Homo sapiens: one gene and its partner. The protein of the gene in region 2 interacts with the protein of the main gene of each other region in a pairwise test. Each region holds a gene or a part of one and is shown on either strand. Other genes may lie near its edges.

The links. Proteins that work in one complex are often made in the same cells at the same time.
Region 1: the proteins of CEP350 (region 2) and CEP43 interact in a two-hybrid assay, tested with the Homo sapiens proteins (one study listed by BioGRID).

What each region holds. Positions count from the first base shown.
Region 1 is NC_000006.12:167,044,133-167,051,406, forward strand, and holds part of CEP43 (centrosomal protein 43), read left to right. Parts: 3' UTR 1-7,274. UniProt on the Homo sapiens protein: Required for anchoring microtubules to the centrosomes. Required for ciliation.
Region 2 is NC_000001.11:179,950,241-179,957,986, reverse strand, and holds the start of CEP350 (centrosome-associated protein 350), read right to left. Parts: upstream 3,178-7,746; 5' UTR 2,884-3,177; coding exon of another isoform or gene 2,845-2,883; intron 2,766-2,844; exon of another isoform or gene 2,569-2,765; intron 1-2,568. UniProt on the Homo sapiens protein: Plays an essential role in centriole growth by stabilizing a procentriolar seed composed of at least, SASS6 and CPAP. Required for anchoring microtubules to the centrosomes and for the integrity of the microtubule network.

The DNA of each region.
Region 1 (7,274 bases), on a different chromosome or scaffold from region 2:
CTGAGCTGTGAGCCCTACACTTCCATTCTTTATAAATTATCCAGTCCAAGGTACTTTAGGAACCTGAATGGATTAAGACAAACCTGATTATGCCACTCCGAGATTTGAGGTAACATTTGAATCTAAAAGAGGCTATATGAAAGAGGTTATAATAAAAATGATTTTTGACTAAAAAATTGTTGGCCTAAGATAATTCAGTAGCAGGGCTGAATAATGGGATGACTCAAAATCAGTAAGCTCAAAGGCAATTTCAAAGAAATCTTTATGTTTAGCAAGAAGACCAAGATGACAAGATGCGCCAGGAGACTTGGCCAGAGGACCTCCAGGCTGACAAAGTTTCCCCGAGGAAGTCAGATTGGAAAAGTGTCCTCAGGTTCAAGGAAACCTGGGTGTGCACCGGGTGAATGAGAGTGGCAGACAGAAGGAAACAGCAAGGCCTCTGAGGTAGGAGGGACAGCGTTTTTGAATGTGAAATTTATTCCCTGATACATGTTTTTAAAAATGAATCTTGCTGCCCTTAGAAAATGAACCCCCGAACAAGGTAAGGTCGAGCTGGCCCCTCGTGTCATCCGACTTTGCGTTGTGGCCCTGCCTGCAGAAACGTGTGCTCTGCTACAGCCCTGGGAGGAGGGGCCGGGCTCCCAACTCCTGCCCCGCTTCTAGCACATGCTGTGCTTGGCCACTTCTCTGCCTCTTAGTTTAACAGCAGCACTGGGCAAGGTTTGCCCTCTGCACACCAGACCGGCTTCCCAAGAACCGGGGAAGAGGAGAGGGCATGCCTGGGGCCTGAGCTTAGTGGGCCGGGTGGAGGCAGGAGGTACTGCATGGAGGAGCGTGGACAGTGGCATGCAGGAGGCCAGTCATTCTGCGGTTTTAGCTGGAGGTTTGTTTTTGGTAGTTTGTAGAATCATCAGATTTGATGATGAAACTTTTTTTCCATAAATGTTAAATTTTCAGACACTTGTATTTTTTTTTTCCTTTTTTTTTTTTGAGACTGAGTCACTGTCGCCCAGGCTGGAGTGCAGTGGTACTAGCTCGGCTCACTGCAACCTCTGCCTCCCAGGTTCAAGCGATTCTCCTGCCTCAGCCTCCTGAGTAGCTGGGATTACAGATGTGTTTCACCATGCCCGGCGAATTTTTTTTGTATTTTTAGTAGACACGGGATCTCACCGTGTTGGCCAGGCTGGTCTTGAACTCCTGACCTATGGTGATCCGCACCCCTCCCCGCCCCCCCCGCGGCCCAGCCTCCCAAAGTGCTGGGATTACAGGCATGAGCCACTGTACCCAGCCCTGTATTTTCTTTAAAAACCAATTTTGGGCCGGGCACGGTGGCTCACGCCTGTAATCCCAGCACTTTGGGAGGCCGAGGCAGGCGGATCACGAGGTCAGGAGATCGAGACCATCCTGGCTAACATGGTGAAAACCCATCTCTACTAAAAATACAGAAAAAAAATGAGCTGGGTGCGATGGTGGGTGCCTGCAGTCCCAGCTACTCGGGAGGCTGAGGCAGGAGAATGGCGTGAACCCAGGAGGCGGAGCTTGCAGTGAGCCCAGATCACGCCCCTGCACTCCAGCCTGGGTGACAGAGCGAGACTCCGTCTCAAAAACAACAACAACAACGAAAAAACGATTTTGGCATGTTTTGTAAGTTGCCAGACTATTGGATATACCTCTTAATCATACTTTGTTTGAAATCCTTTGTGGTTTCTAAAGCACTAGTAGCTTTCTGAAAGGAAAATTTTTAATGAATGAAGCATGCTTCATCCTGCACATCCCCTCCTGCCCCAGCACCCCTACTGCCCATGCGCCTCTCCTGCCCCAGCACCCCTACTGCCCCAGTGCCAGGCCTTTTCTAGCAGCTCTCATGGGTTCATCCCTGCTGCGGGCATTGCTCCACCAAGGGGCAGTGCTCTCCCTGCCGGTAAGTGTTGGAACTTCACGTTTCCCTCTAGTTTTCTCTTTACATTTTAACATACACTATTATGTGTCAATATATTAATTATATATTAATTACATTTATAGAGGTTAGGTATATATGGCAGATCATATCTGAGCGTGAATTACATTCTCCAATATTTTTATTTGTCATGATTTATTGCAGGGTTCACTTATTTGATCTACCCCAACTTAACACACATTTCCAAGAAAATATCCATCACACTAGAAAGAAAGAAAGAGGAAGGAAGGAAGGGAGGGAGGGAGAGAAGGAGAAAGGAAGAAAGGGAAGGAAAATGGAATGGAGGAAGGGAAAAATGGAAGGAGGAAGGAAGGAAGGGAAAGAATGAAGAAAGCCATTTGTTCCTGCAAACCTAAACCTCTTTGTAGTAAGTTCTGGCAGAAGGTGTGTTTCTGGAGTTAAACTACAGGCTTGGAAATGGAATTTCTTAGCCTAATTTCTAAATTAGAACTGCTTATGCAAATTAACACTCCGTACATTTCAACAAGCAGTTGGCTGATTTCTTCTGTCCACTCCACCTGCAGATGCAGAGGTGGCCCCATCCTGTGATGTGCCACCACATCCCTTTTCAGTGAAGGGCTTTGTTGGCTGCTGTGGGCATTCTCATGGCCTCTCCAGGGATGGCCTCCACTGTAGAGACCTATGTCACCAAGGCCAGGCCCTCTCAGGGGGCTCCATCCAACGACCATTCTGCCTCAGGGTAAGAGGCCCGGCCCTCTCAGCCTGAGTCCATTCTGGCTCCAGAGCTCCCTGAGAGCTTGCCTGGCAAGTTACTCTTGCAATTCTAGCTTCCAGCAGGCGTTGATTTCTGGGGCACTTTTGATAAACTCCTGGCAGGAAACTCAATCTCTGGGGGTCAGAGTCCACTTCCTGGGGAGCCCAATCTGTGACCCCTAGGAGTGGGGACCATGGAAGCACTTGGCTCTCCAGCATGTGCTGAATAGGGGGCGCTGCCTGCAATGTCCACGTGGAAACCTGGCTGGGAGAATGCCTGTGTGCTCTGCATGGGGATGTAAAGGTGTGAGCAAACCTTCTTCAGAGAGGGGATGTTCAATGCGAAATTTGAACATTGGGACCTGAAAAACTGATGGGCTGATGGGGTCTGCCCATGATTGGCAGCCTTCATAGAATCACGAGGGAGGAGCACAGGCCACCCTAGACAGGAGGGGTCCCCTACTGACAGGGAGGTGCTGTCGGGGCAGCAGGCACGTGCAGGAAAACGGAAAAGCAGAGTAATTGAATGTAAATCATGCAACTCCACTACAGTGGCTAGAAGCCTGGATGGGCAACTTGGCTGAGTGATGTTGGGCAAGTTATTTAATATCAGTATTCTCAGTTTTCTCATCTGTAAAGGGGATTAAATACTTCCTTCCCTTACAGGGCTGCCCTGGTCTTAAGTAATGCCCACAGAGAGCTTAGCATTGTTCTTGGCAAGTCACTAGTACTCAGTAAATACTATTTTTATTAAGAAGGTAAGATTCACAGGACTTAGTGTCTTAACTAGATGTTGAGAGTAAGGAGAAGAGAGAATACTTCTCGGATGATTGTTCAGTTTCTGATGAATGTCTGTTCCCCTTTCAAAACCTAATTCAGATGTCACTTCCTCCTCAAAGCTCTCGCCCCGCGCCGAGCTACTGTGATGTATTTTTATGACCTGGCAGCTTTTTTCTCATATCCCTGTTAGCGGTATGTGGTAAGAACATGAGACACAGAATCAGAAACCATGGATTTCTGGTCTTGACTCCACTACCACTCAGAGGAACCTCACGGTGGATGCCGTAAGTGTTTACACTGAAAAGGATTTTCACGAAAACCTGCATTTTCATTTCGTTCACAAGAGAATTATGAGACTAGAAAAACAACAATTCTTAGTATACCACAGACTGTGGTGCCTAGGAATAACAGACAAGCTTTAACTCACACGATGAGCATCTTTATTTAGCTCTGCTTTTAGATATCTGCATGATAAAGATGAGTGATCCAACGTTAGAAATCATCTGGACATTAAAACTGAATTGTAGGCAGGCGTGGTGGCTCACACCTGTAATCCCAGCACTTACGGAGACCAAGGCGGGCAGATTGCTTGAGCTCAGGAGTTTGTGAGACTAGCCTGGGCAACATAGTAAGACCCCTATCTCTACAAAAAATATAAAAATTAGCTAGGCATCATGGCCTGTGCCTGTAGTCCTAGCTATTGAGGAAACTGATGCAGGAGGATCATTTGAGCTCAGGAGTTTGAGACCATTCTGGGCAATACGGTGAAACCCTGTCTCTACAAAAAAATGCAAAGATTAGCTAGGCATGATGGCACATGCCTGTGGTCCCAGCTACTCGGGAGGCTGAGGCAGGAGGATTGCAGGAGGTTTGCTTGAGCCGGGGAGGTCGAGTCTGCAGTGAACTGAGATTGCATCACTGCACTACAGCCTGGGTGACAGAGTAAGACCCTATCTCAAAAAAAAGAACTAATTGTAACAAACTATCTTTCAAATTATATCAAAACAGTGATTCATAAATTCCATGTTGCCCAGAGATCATGAGGAGCTCTTCTATGATTTGACAGTGCAATTACTGAAGGGGAAGACACCATGCAAATACATGGTAAAAATATTCAAATTATTACTGATTTGACACAAAATATTGATGTAAATAACATAAAACTGTAATATGCCATTATGATGACATTAATGAAAAATTGGTTAATGAATGTCATTGAAAGAGCATGTACATCACTAAATGTTCTTAGTCACTGAAAGTGTGAAATAGCCTCTAAACTCATATGTGGAAAAAGAACTTGAAAAAGGTTTCCAGAAATGTGACAATTCTAGTACTTTCATGACATTTTAAAAAAGGGATTGTAAAGACTGATGAAACCCTTAAAACCTCTCAAGAATTAAAAATCATTTTTGATCAACAGAGTAAACTGATTTTTTATCTCTGTTGAAAGATATTTTTAAAATCATTGTCCTATGGAAAAGTCATATAGAACGTTTGCTGTTTAATGTAGCACAGATGTATCAAAAAGCCATGCCAGGCAGTTATAGATATCTTAGTTTTCTGGATTTTGTGACGTTTGTGGTATTTGTCAGATTTTTAAAATTTGTGATTTGTTGGGATTTGTTCCTCATTCACAGGTAATTTTATATACTTTTGTATTCACTTTCGAAAAGAAGGCAACTCTAAATTTTATGAACTTCAAGTGCTATAAAACAATTACCACAGTAAATTTTGAAAAATTCACCCCAAAAAGAAACCTTGTATCCATTGGCAGTAACTCCCTATGCTCCGCCATTCCTCTCAGCTCCCTGTCTGGCAACCACTTCCTGTCTCTTCAGAGTTGCCTCTTCTGGACATTACATATAAACGGAATTATACACTATGTGGCCTTTTATGACTGGCTTCTTTCACTTAGCATAATGTTTTCAAGAGTCATCTGTGTTGTAGCATTTGTCAGTACTTCATTTATTTTTGTTTCCTAACAATACTCCATTGTAGGGATTGACCACACTTTATCCATTCATTGGTTGATGGACATTTGGGTTGTTTCCACTTTTTCTGCTGTTGTGAATAACAGTGCTAAGCACATTCATATGCAGTGTTTGTGTAGATATATAATATGCTTTATTTTCTCTTGAGTACATAAAAGTGGAGCCTCTGAGTAATATAATAACTCTATGTTTGGTGTTTTGAAGAATTGCTAAATTGTTTTCCAAAGCAGCTGCACCATTTTATATCCCTACCAGCAATGCATGAAGCTTCCAGTTTCTCCACATCATCACGAATACTCCTTATTCTCTCTCTTTTTAGATATAGACATTCTGGCAGGTGTGACATTGTATCTCTTGTGGTTTAGATTTGCATTTGGAGCATGTCTTATGTGCACTTAAAAATATTAATATCTATTCTGCTGTTGTTGGGTAAACTGTTCTATAGATGTTGATATGGCTTCGCTGTGTCCCCACTCAAAATCTCATCTTGACTTGTAATCCCCATAATCTCCATGTGTCAAGGGTGGGACCAGGTGGAGGTAATTGGATCATGAGGGTGGTTTTCCCTACTCTGTTTTCATGATAGTGAGTCTCACAAGGTCTGATGGTTTTATAAGCATCTGGCATTTCCCCTGCTTGCACTCAGGCTGTCCTGCCACACTGTGAAGAAGGTGCCTTGCTTCTCCTTTGCCTTCTGCCATGAGTGTAAGTTTCATGAGGCCTCCCCAGCCATGCTGAACTGTGAGTCAATTAAACCTCTTTCCTTTATAAATTACCAAGCTGCGGCTATTTCTTCATAGCAGTGTGAGAACGGACTAATACAGGTGTTTTTTAGGTCTTGTTATTGTGTCGTTCACGTCTTTTATTTCCTTGTTGATCTTACTCTTAGTTGTTCTATCCATCATTGAAAATGGGGCATTGGCCAGGCGTGGTGGCTCACGCCTGTAATCCCAGCACTTTGGGAGGCCAAGACCAGCAGATCACTTGAGGTCAGGGGTTCGAGACCAGCGTGGCTAACATGGAGAACTCCTGTCTCTACTAAAAATACAAAAATTAGTCAGGTGTGGCAGTGCGTGCCCGCCTATAGTCCCATCTACTTGGGAGGCTGAGGCAGGGGAATTGCTTGAACCCTGGAGTCAGAGTTTGCAGTGAGCTGAGATCATGCCACTGCGCTCCAGTCTGGGTGACAGAGTGAGACTCAAAAAAGAAAAAAAAAAAAAAAAAAAAAAAGAAAGAAAATGAGACATTGGATTTGTAAGTTTCTGACAGGTTCATTTTGCCTGCTGCCCAGATAGAGCCGATTTATGAGGACAGGGAAATTGCAATAGAGAAAGAGTTTAATACATGTAGAACTGGCTAAACAAGAGACTGGAGTTTTATTATTACTCAAATCAGCCTCCACAAAAATTTGGAGGCTAGGTCTTTTCAAAGATAGTTTGGTGGGCAGGGGTTTGTGTACTAAGAAACTAAATGTTTCTTGTGTACTAAGTCAGCTTCTGGGTGGGGGCCAGAGGACCAGTTGAGCCAAGAATTCAAGAGGTACAGGTTCAAGTAGGGCCATCTGGTTGTCAGAAATGCAAAAGCCTGGAAAGTCATCTCAAATGTTAGGTTCTACAATAGTCAAGTTATTTATAGTAATTGGGAAAGTTGCAAATCTTGTGACCTCTGTAGAAAATAGGTGGTAATCTTTACACCTATATCTTAGTAGAATTCAGGCCCCTCACTTCCTCCTAACCTGGTAGCCTTTCATTAGTTTTACAAAGGCAGTTTAATTTTGGGGGGCAGGGCTATTATCATCTAAACTATAAACTATAATCGTTTGTCCCAAAGTT
Region 2 (7,746 bases):
TCTGTTTTCTTATGTATAAAATATGGGAATTGGACTAGCTGGCCTTGAAGAATTTAAACTCCCAATACTGAGATTAAGAAGTGACTTAAAGTTATTACAAGGCTATAATTATAGTACTAGTATAACAGGTTAGGGTCTTAAAGTTTATATTTTCTTTAAATTACCGTAACCTGTTGCCAGAGCACCTAGGCAAATCATTAAAATAGTAAATGAAGTTTCCACTGTGGCTTATTCCCAGTGGCTTTTTAATCCCAGGCTGTCATTCCCTTGCTACCCAGCAAATCTGAGCATATCTCTGGAATATATTCCCAAGAGTTGAGGTGTGCTTAGGAACTAAGAACTAGTCTTTTGTTTTGTTTTGCATTTAAAATATTATTCTGGGACTATTCTTTAGTCAATTTCTTCAATTAGTATTTATTGACTATGTTACCATATGCTAGGCACTGGGTGCATAATAGTGATTAAAGGATCTCTGCCATCATGGAACTTACAGACCAGATGAGAAAGGCAAAGAATAACTCAAAATAACCACAAGTAAATGTAAAATCACACTTATGATAACAATGAACAACAACAACAACAAATCAATACAGAAAAAAATACTATGCAATCTGATGATTTTTTTACACTATAACACTAAAATTTGCCTCATGTTGCAAAAATAACAATCACAATTATATGCAGAGAATTAACTTTTTAAATCATCAGTTGTCTCAACAATAAAATCATCAAGATATTACTACTTTTCAGTTATGTTACTGATCATGTGGCTTGAATGTTTGTTTTACATAACTAAGAGTATAAATGACTGAAAGAATAAAGATGACAGAACTGAGTATCCAAAGTGAAAGATAATAAATGAACTACACTTTAATAATCTTGTTCAAGCAAAAAGTATATACATAAAGAAGTAAGTGATCCATCATAATTCATGACTTGTCAATAATTAACAAAACGTTATAAAAATACTAATGTTTTTAAAGAACTGACGATCATCAGCATAAGGGGCAAGTGGCATGTAAAAAGGAACAAAAATAGAATAATTTTTTAATATTTTAAAATAACACCAAATGCCAGAGCACCTATATTAATATTTAGTTTAAAATAAAAATAATTCCACATTATCTGCAGAAATGAGAGGCATTCACATAAATGATCTTCCTTGTGTGTCAGTTTCCACGACTGCAAAATAAGGATATCTGCCATACCTACTTCACAAGATCACTGTGAAAACTAAATAAAATAATGTATATAGAAGCACACCAAAAACTGATGTCAGTTATTTTAGACTTCTTTTTTGCTCCCACTATAAATTATAGCAATTTAACAAATAAAATTGATTATAGCAGTACTTCATCTCCTTTCTTCTGCTCATATATGGTAGAAGTGTTATAAAATGGGCAAAAGACTGACAATCAGAAGCAGAAGGAAAAAATCCAAAAACTTTATAATTCATAAATTGATTGCCCCACAGAAGGTTGGCTGTTTAAGTATTAACGCTCTTACATGACACACACACCAATTTATCTCAGAAAATCAAAGAAATATGTTCACATACGTATGAAATTTTTTACATATACAACTTGCCATCTCTACATACACAAAATTTTGCTACTGAGGATGAAGAGATACAGAGATACACATGTATTTATCCACATATACAATGTATTCTAGCTTGAAGTTTATTTTCAGATTACAGTATCTTAAATTTAATGCACTGACAGTTCAAATGATTCAGATTTATTTCATTACATTAAATAAAATTTGTCAATTTAGCACACCGAAACTAATTATTATACGCCCATGGCTTTGAAGCAACTTCCAGCATGGGTCTAACAATCCCTCAAAGTCACAATTCCATGTCATTAGCAGTGCATTTCCTTGTTTAAAAACAATATATTAAACGAAGAAATTTTCAGAATGGAGGGCAACTTTTAGTATTTTATCATTGTTTCTACAGAACTTTTCAGATTGTTACTAGCTCTGCCAAAGATAGTCTTTCTTTTAAAACTCTTCAAATACAGGGCAGGAGGTATCGTTAACATGGCAACAATAACGACTTCCCCAAATTCAAAACAAGGATCACCATCAAAACAAAACAATCAGGTGGAGTACATGGATATTGATCACTATTTCTGACAACCTGTTTTTTCCCATATGAAGGATTTGCTACTGCATTAAAACATTAAAATCTATGCCTATGTGCAACTTTCTATCTGAATATTTAAAATCCAGGCAAATTCCAATTCATATCTTGTGACATTAGCTAAATATTACTTAGCATGTTGAGCTGCATTTAAAAGGCAGAGGAAAATACTGACAACTTCCAAAACATAAAGCCTTTTAAATCTTTCCCCAAATTATCTGTGAATAAACTACCTTCAGCAGCCGCTAGACTAGAGTAGATCAAAGTTTTCCCTATACTTGAGAATGTGATCCCCACTGAAAAGGAACAGAAACTGATCATCCCTGCCACTGGAGCCAGTCCCCGGAATCTCCCCAAATACGCCTGATCGCCAGATGAAGAAGGGACACTTCTCCGGGCAGCAAAGGCTAGAGGTATCTTACCTCTGCAGGCTAGAGGAGGGGTGGAGGAGGCGGGAGGACACTGGCACGTAAGGAAGGAAATTCCGTCTTCAGCAGGCACTGGTGGGACCCGAAACCTAGGTCCCCGAAAAGCCTCAGAACCCAGGGAGGTTCCCCGAGGGGGACGCCAAGCAGGGCCAAGACTCTCCGCGCCCGGCCCCGCCTCTCTTGCCGCCACCGGGGACCCGGGACCGCGGACAGAGACAGTTGAGGCTGAGCGAGACTCCGCGGTCCCAGCCAGGTCCTACAGGAGCTCACCTGAGAGTGTCGCCTCCGCCCTCGGCTACCACGGTGCATCCCGCGGAGCCTGGCGGAGGGTGCAGTGACGCCGCCCCGACCGGCCCCAGGGCTGCCCGGCCTGGCCTCCCCGCTCCGGGGACGCACCGGGTGCCCTCCTCGCACCGGCTCCGGGGATCCGCCGGTCCGCTGGGAAGGAAGACAAGGCGGAAAGGCTGCCTCCCCTCCCTCAGGGCAAGCCACCCCCCGAGCTGCGGCTCCCTGCAGTTCTCTCTGGCGCAGGTCTGGCCCCGCTCCCCGGCCCGGGAGTCACTTCGTCAGGGGCGGCCCAGTCGCCATTACAGCCCAACAACTGACACGGAGGAGGAGCGGCGCCAGCGGCAGCGGCTGTGGCGGCGGCGCGAGGCAGGGCGGGAGCAGTCGGGCCCAGGCAAACCTCGCGAGAACTGTCCCGAGACAGTGCCACAGGCATGCCAACCTTCGGTTAGGGCCATGTTGAGTGTGGCCGAAAGGTGGGAGCGAAATAAAACAAGGAGCAGAACCGCGAAGAAGCCATGTTTGGTGCGTCGAAGTTTAAACTCGTAGGACTTGGGAGGAGCCAAGGTATATCCGCAGAAGAGACCACCCCTGCCCTTTCGCTTTGACGCTCATTGGGCCTTTTGGCTGCGCATTTCACCCCGGGCTGAGAAAACAAGCTGGGGATTCGACAAGAATGAACTCAAAGTCTGGAAACGGCAGCTTCTGAGAGTTTACAATGTTTCACCAACTGTCGTCCAAATAAGTCGTCACCCCTGTCAGAGTAGTTGCAGCTCTGCCGTTACCCACTGCTGTCACTGTGGCCGTTTTATTCGCGAGGGTTACAGTTCTGTTTAGCATGCATCTAATGACTTAAGACTCCACGCAAGTAAAACGGAGTTTCCTCCCATTAAGTATTGGCTTTGCTTTAACAGTGCTTTGAGAGGCTCTCTGTGGCCAACATATCTTCTCATATCTTTGTCCTCGTTTCCCAATCTCCGCGTGGTGAAATCATCTATCAAGACTTGGCTTAAAGGACCTCTCTTCTGCAAATAATGCCATCTTCCGCTAGGTGCTCACTGCACACAGACTCGCCGCCCACCACTTCTGTCCACCTTCTGAACTCCGATAGTTATTTACCCAGAGACTGTTTCTCATCTTTAAGTGTCGTGAAGACTTTAAGATCTGTTTTATCTCTCTATACCCCAAAATGGCCTAGCACAGTAACTAGGACATTGTAGGTGCTCAATAAATGTTTGTCGAATATCAATGACAGCAGGAGGCAGTAAATGGTCCCTCTTTGTAGGGCCTACAGCTGTGCCTGAGTAGGATGTACAGAAGTCCTGCATACGTGTGAAGTGTCTCCAGGAAGCTGCACTGGAGGGGACAGGAAATGTGGGTAATCGTATGGTGCAAGTGGTAGCAAAAAAGACAACATAAGGAAAATGTTATTTAGGTTTTGCCCAGTCTTGCTGTTTAAAGCCCTGTGTTAGATGCTTTTCATGCGCTATTTTACTGAATGTAAACAACCACCTTATTAAATATACTCACTTTTTTAAAACGAAGAAACACGTACTGGCCGGTCACAGTGGCTCACGCCTGTAATCTCAGCACTTTGCGGGGCCGAGGCGGGTGGATCACGAGGTCAGGAGTACAAGACCAGCCTGGCCAAGATGGTGAAACCCCGTCTCTACTAAAAATACAAAAATTAGCCGGGCGTGGTGGCGGGTGCCTGTAATCCCAGCTACTCGGGAGGCGGAGGCAGGAGTATCGCTTGAACCTGCGAGGCGGAGGTTGCAGTGAGCCGGGATCGCACCACTGCACTCCAGCCTGGGCAACAGAGTGAGACTCCATCTCAAAAAAATAAAAAAAAAGAAAGAAAGAAAGAAAAAGAAACAAGTACTGAAAAAGCTAAGTAATTTGCCCAATTTTATACCATCAATAAAAGGGAGCTGTAAGCTTTGGGATCTGCTTTGCCCCAAAGCCTGTTTATACTTTTTCAGCCCCATGCTATCCCCTTGACAACAGAGAAGACACCAAAGTTCTGTCACTGTGCTCAGAGCAGGGTTACCCTGGTATCAGCCTATGCACAATTTCTACTTCTTATACCTTGTGTTGGTCTGTCTTCTCCTCGCCTCCTAAATTCCCCAAGCACATCAATGTCTTTCTTTTCTAATATCCCGTTACTCTTGTGTTTACCCTACAGATTGGCCCTGAATCTATCAAGTTTTGTACTAGTTGCATATAGTTTCATGAGAGTAATTAATCTCTGGAACAAGATTGGAGGTTTACTGTGGAAAGGTTTGTGGCCCTTCCCAGACGTCTCCGCAGTGTTAGGCCGGTAATAGGTATTCAATATGGCTCCCTTGTTTCTCCTACTTTTTAGTAGACACTAAGATTGCATTTTTCTTTATATTCTTTGTTGATTACTGTGGCCTTGACTCTCACCACTCTTTGGATAACTGGATCTTGGCCCTAGACTAAATCTCCAATTACCCGTTACCCATCTTCACATAGATACAGAAGTCACCAGCACCTTCAGCTCCCATATTAAGGTTATCATTTTTCCTCCCTCAGTCTCACAAAGCCAGCTCCTCCTCGTTTCCTCTGTATTTCTGTTCATGGCCGTCACAGAACACTCTTCTGAGAACTAAGAGAACCAAAGTTTCAGAAATATTATATACTCCTCTGTACGCCTTGCTCCCACCCAGTTATGAAGTCTCTAAATACCACTGATGCATATTTCTTATATGTACTTCCCTTTTGTCTGATTGCACCACTGCCTTCCTAATTTAGACTGTCATTTCTACTGCCCAAATGATTATAGTAGTATTTCCACAGTTCAGCTTGAGTTTTGTCTCTATCATGTCTCTACCTGCCAAGGTAAGTAAAAACTTTTCGCCTCAGCCATCAAGGCTTTTCTCAGTATGGCACCAACCTAACTTTCCATCTCCCTTAAGTAAGACAGCACAATAAAGTAGAAAGGGCAGGAATGTGACATCAGAAAGACACTTATTCAAATCTTGGCTCTATCACTTACTTGCCTTATGACCCCTCAAGAACCTCAATCTTCTTGTCTATATCAAGGCTAATGATATCTACCCTGTAGGGTTGTCTTAAAGATTAGAAATAATACCTGTCAAGAGCTTGACGTTAAAAGACAGAAATAAACGGTAGCTAATGTCACGAAATGGGAAGTGATACACTGACTGAGAATGTTACATTCAAGCCACACTGGATCGGAGAAACAACCTGTTCATTCCTACCTCTAGGCCTTTGTTTCCTAACCTGGAACACATATTACCCCAGCTCGCAATTTCTGCCACATTCTCTAAGTGCCAACTGAGAAGCTAACTACTACAGAAAAAAATCCTTGATTGCTCATACTTTCCAGGTGCTCTTCCACCCCTGAACTGTGTGATGCTGTGTCTCCTGCATAGAGCGGTATCTACTATCAGTATTTCTGCATGTATCTTATACATCATGATCATGTTAGATTCTAAGGACCTTTGTCTCCTTCATAGTGGATTAAAAGCATGAATTCTGCACATAGTGAATGACATCATTACATCGCCAAAGCTATATCTATTTCTTAATTCGTTGTCTAGAGATCAATATCAAATTTTGCATTCCCAGGAAAGAAAACATAGCTATTCACCTAGAATTTAAATTCTGGGTTTAAACCTTGGCTGAGGCCGGGTGCGGTGGCTCACCCCTATAATCCCAGCACTTTGGGAGGCCAGGGTGGGTGGATCAGTTGAAGGCAGGAGTTCGACACCAGACTGGCCAACATAATGAAACCCCATCTCTACCAAAAATACGAAAAATTAGCCGGGCATGGTGGTGAACGCCTGTAGTCCCAGCTACTTGGCAGGCTGAGGCATGAGAATCAGTTGAACCCAGGAGGCAGAGGATACAGCGAGCCAAGATTGCACCACTGCATTCTGGCCTGGGTGATGGAGTGAGACTCTGTCTCAAATAAATAAATAAATAAAGCCTGGCTGAGCTACTTACTAGCCATATAACTTTGGTCAGGGTACTTAACCTCTTCGTGACTCAGTTTCCACTTCTGTATAGTGGAGATTGCAATGGTACCTACCTCACTGGGTTGTGTAAGAAAAGAAATAACACATGTAGAGGAATATAAAATGTGTTCAGAATATACAAATATATAGAGACAGAAGGTAGATAAGTGATTGCCTGGGGCAGAGAAGTGGAATAGACATAGGGGAGGGGAGGAGAAATGGGAAATGACTACTAGTGGTTATGGAGTTTCCTTTTATTTTGAGAGGGAGTCTCGCTCTGTCGCCCAGGCTGGAGTGCAATGGCATGATCTCAGCTCACTGCAACTTCTGCCCCCCAGGTTCAAGCGATTCTTCCGCTTCAGCTTCCTGAGTAGCTGGGATTACATGCTATCCGCCATCATGCCCTACGAATTTTTGTATTTTTGTAGAGACGAGGTTTCACCATGTTGTCCAGGCTGGTCTTGAATTCCTGACCTCAGGTAATCTGCCCACCTCAGCCTCCCAAAGTGCTGGGATTACAGGCATGAGCCACTGTGCCTGGCCTTTTTCTTTTCTTCTTACAGAGTTTCGCTCTTGTTGCCCAGGCTGGAGTGCAATGGTGCGATCTCGGCTCACTGCAACCTCTGCCTCCTGGGTTCAAGTTATTCTCCTGCCTCAGCCTCCCATGTAGCTGGGATTACAGGCATGCGCCACCACACCCAGCTAATTTTGTATTTTTAGTAGAGATGGGGTTTCTCCATGTTGGTCACGCTGGTCTCGAACTCCCAACCTCAGGTGATCCGCCTGCCTCAGCCTCCCAAAGTGCTGGGATTACAGGCGTGAGCCACTGTGCCCGGCCCCAGAGTTTCTTTTTTATGCGATGAAAATGTTCTAAAATTGATAG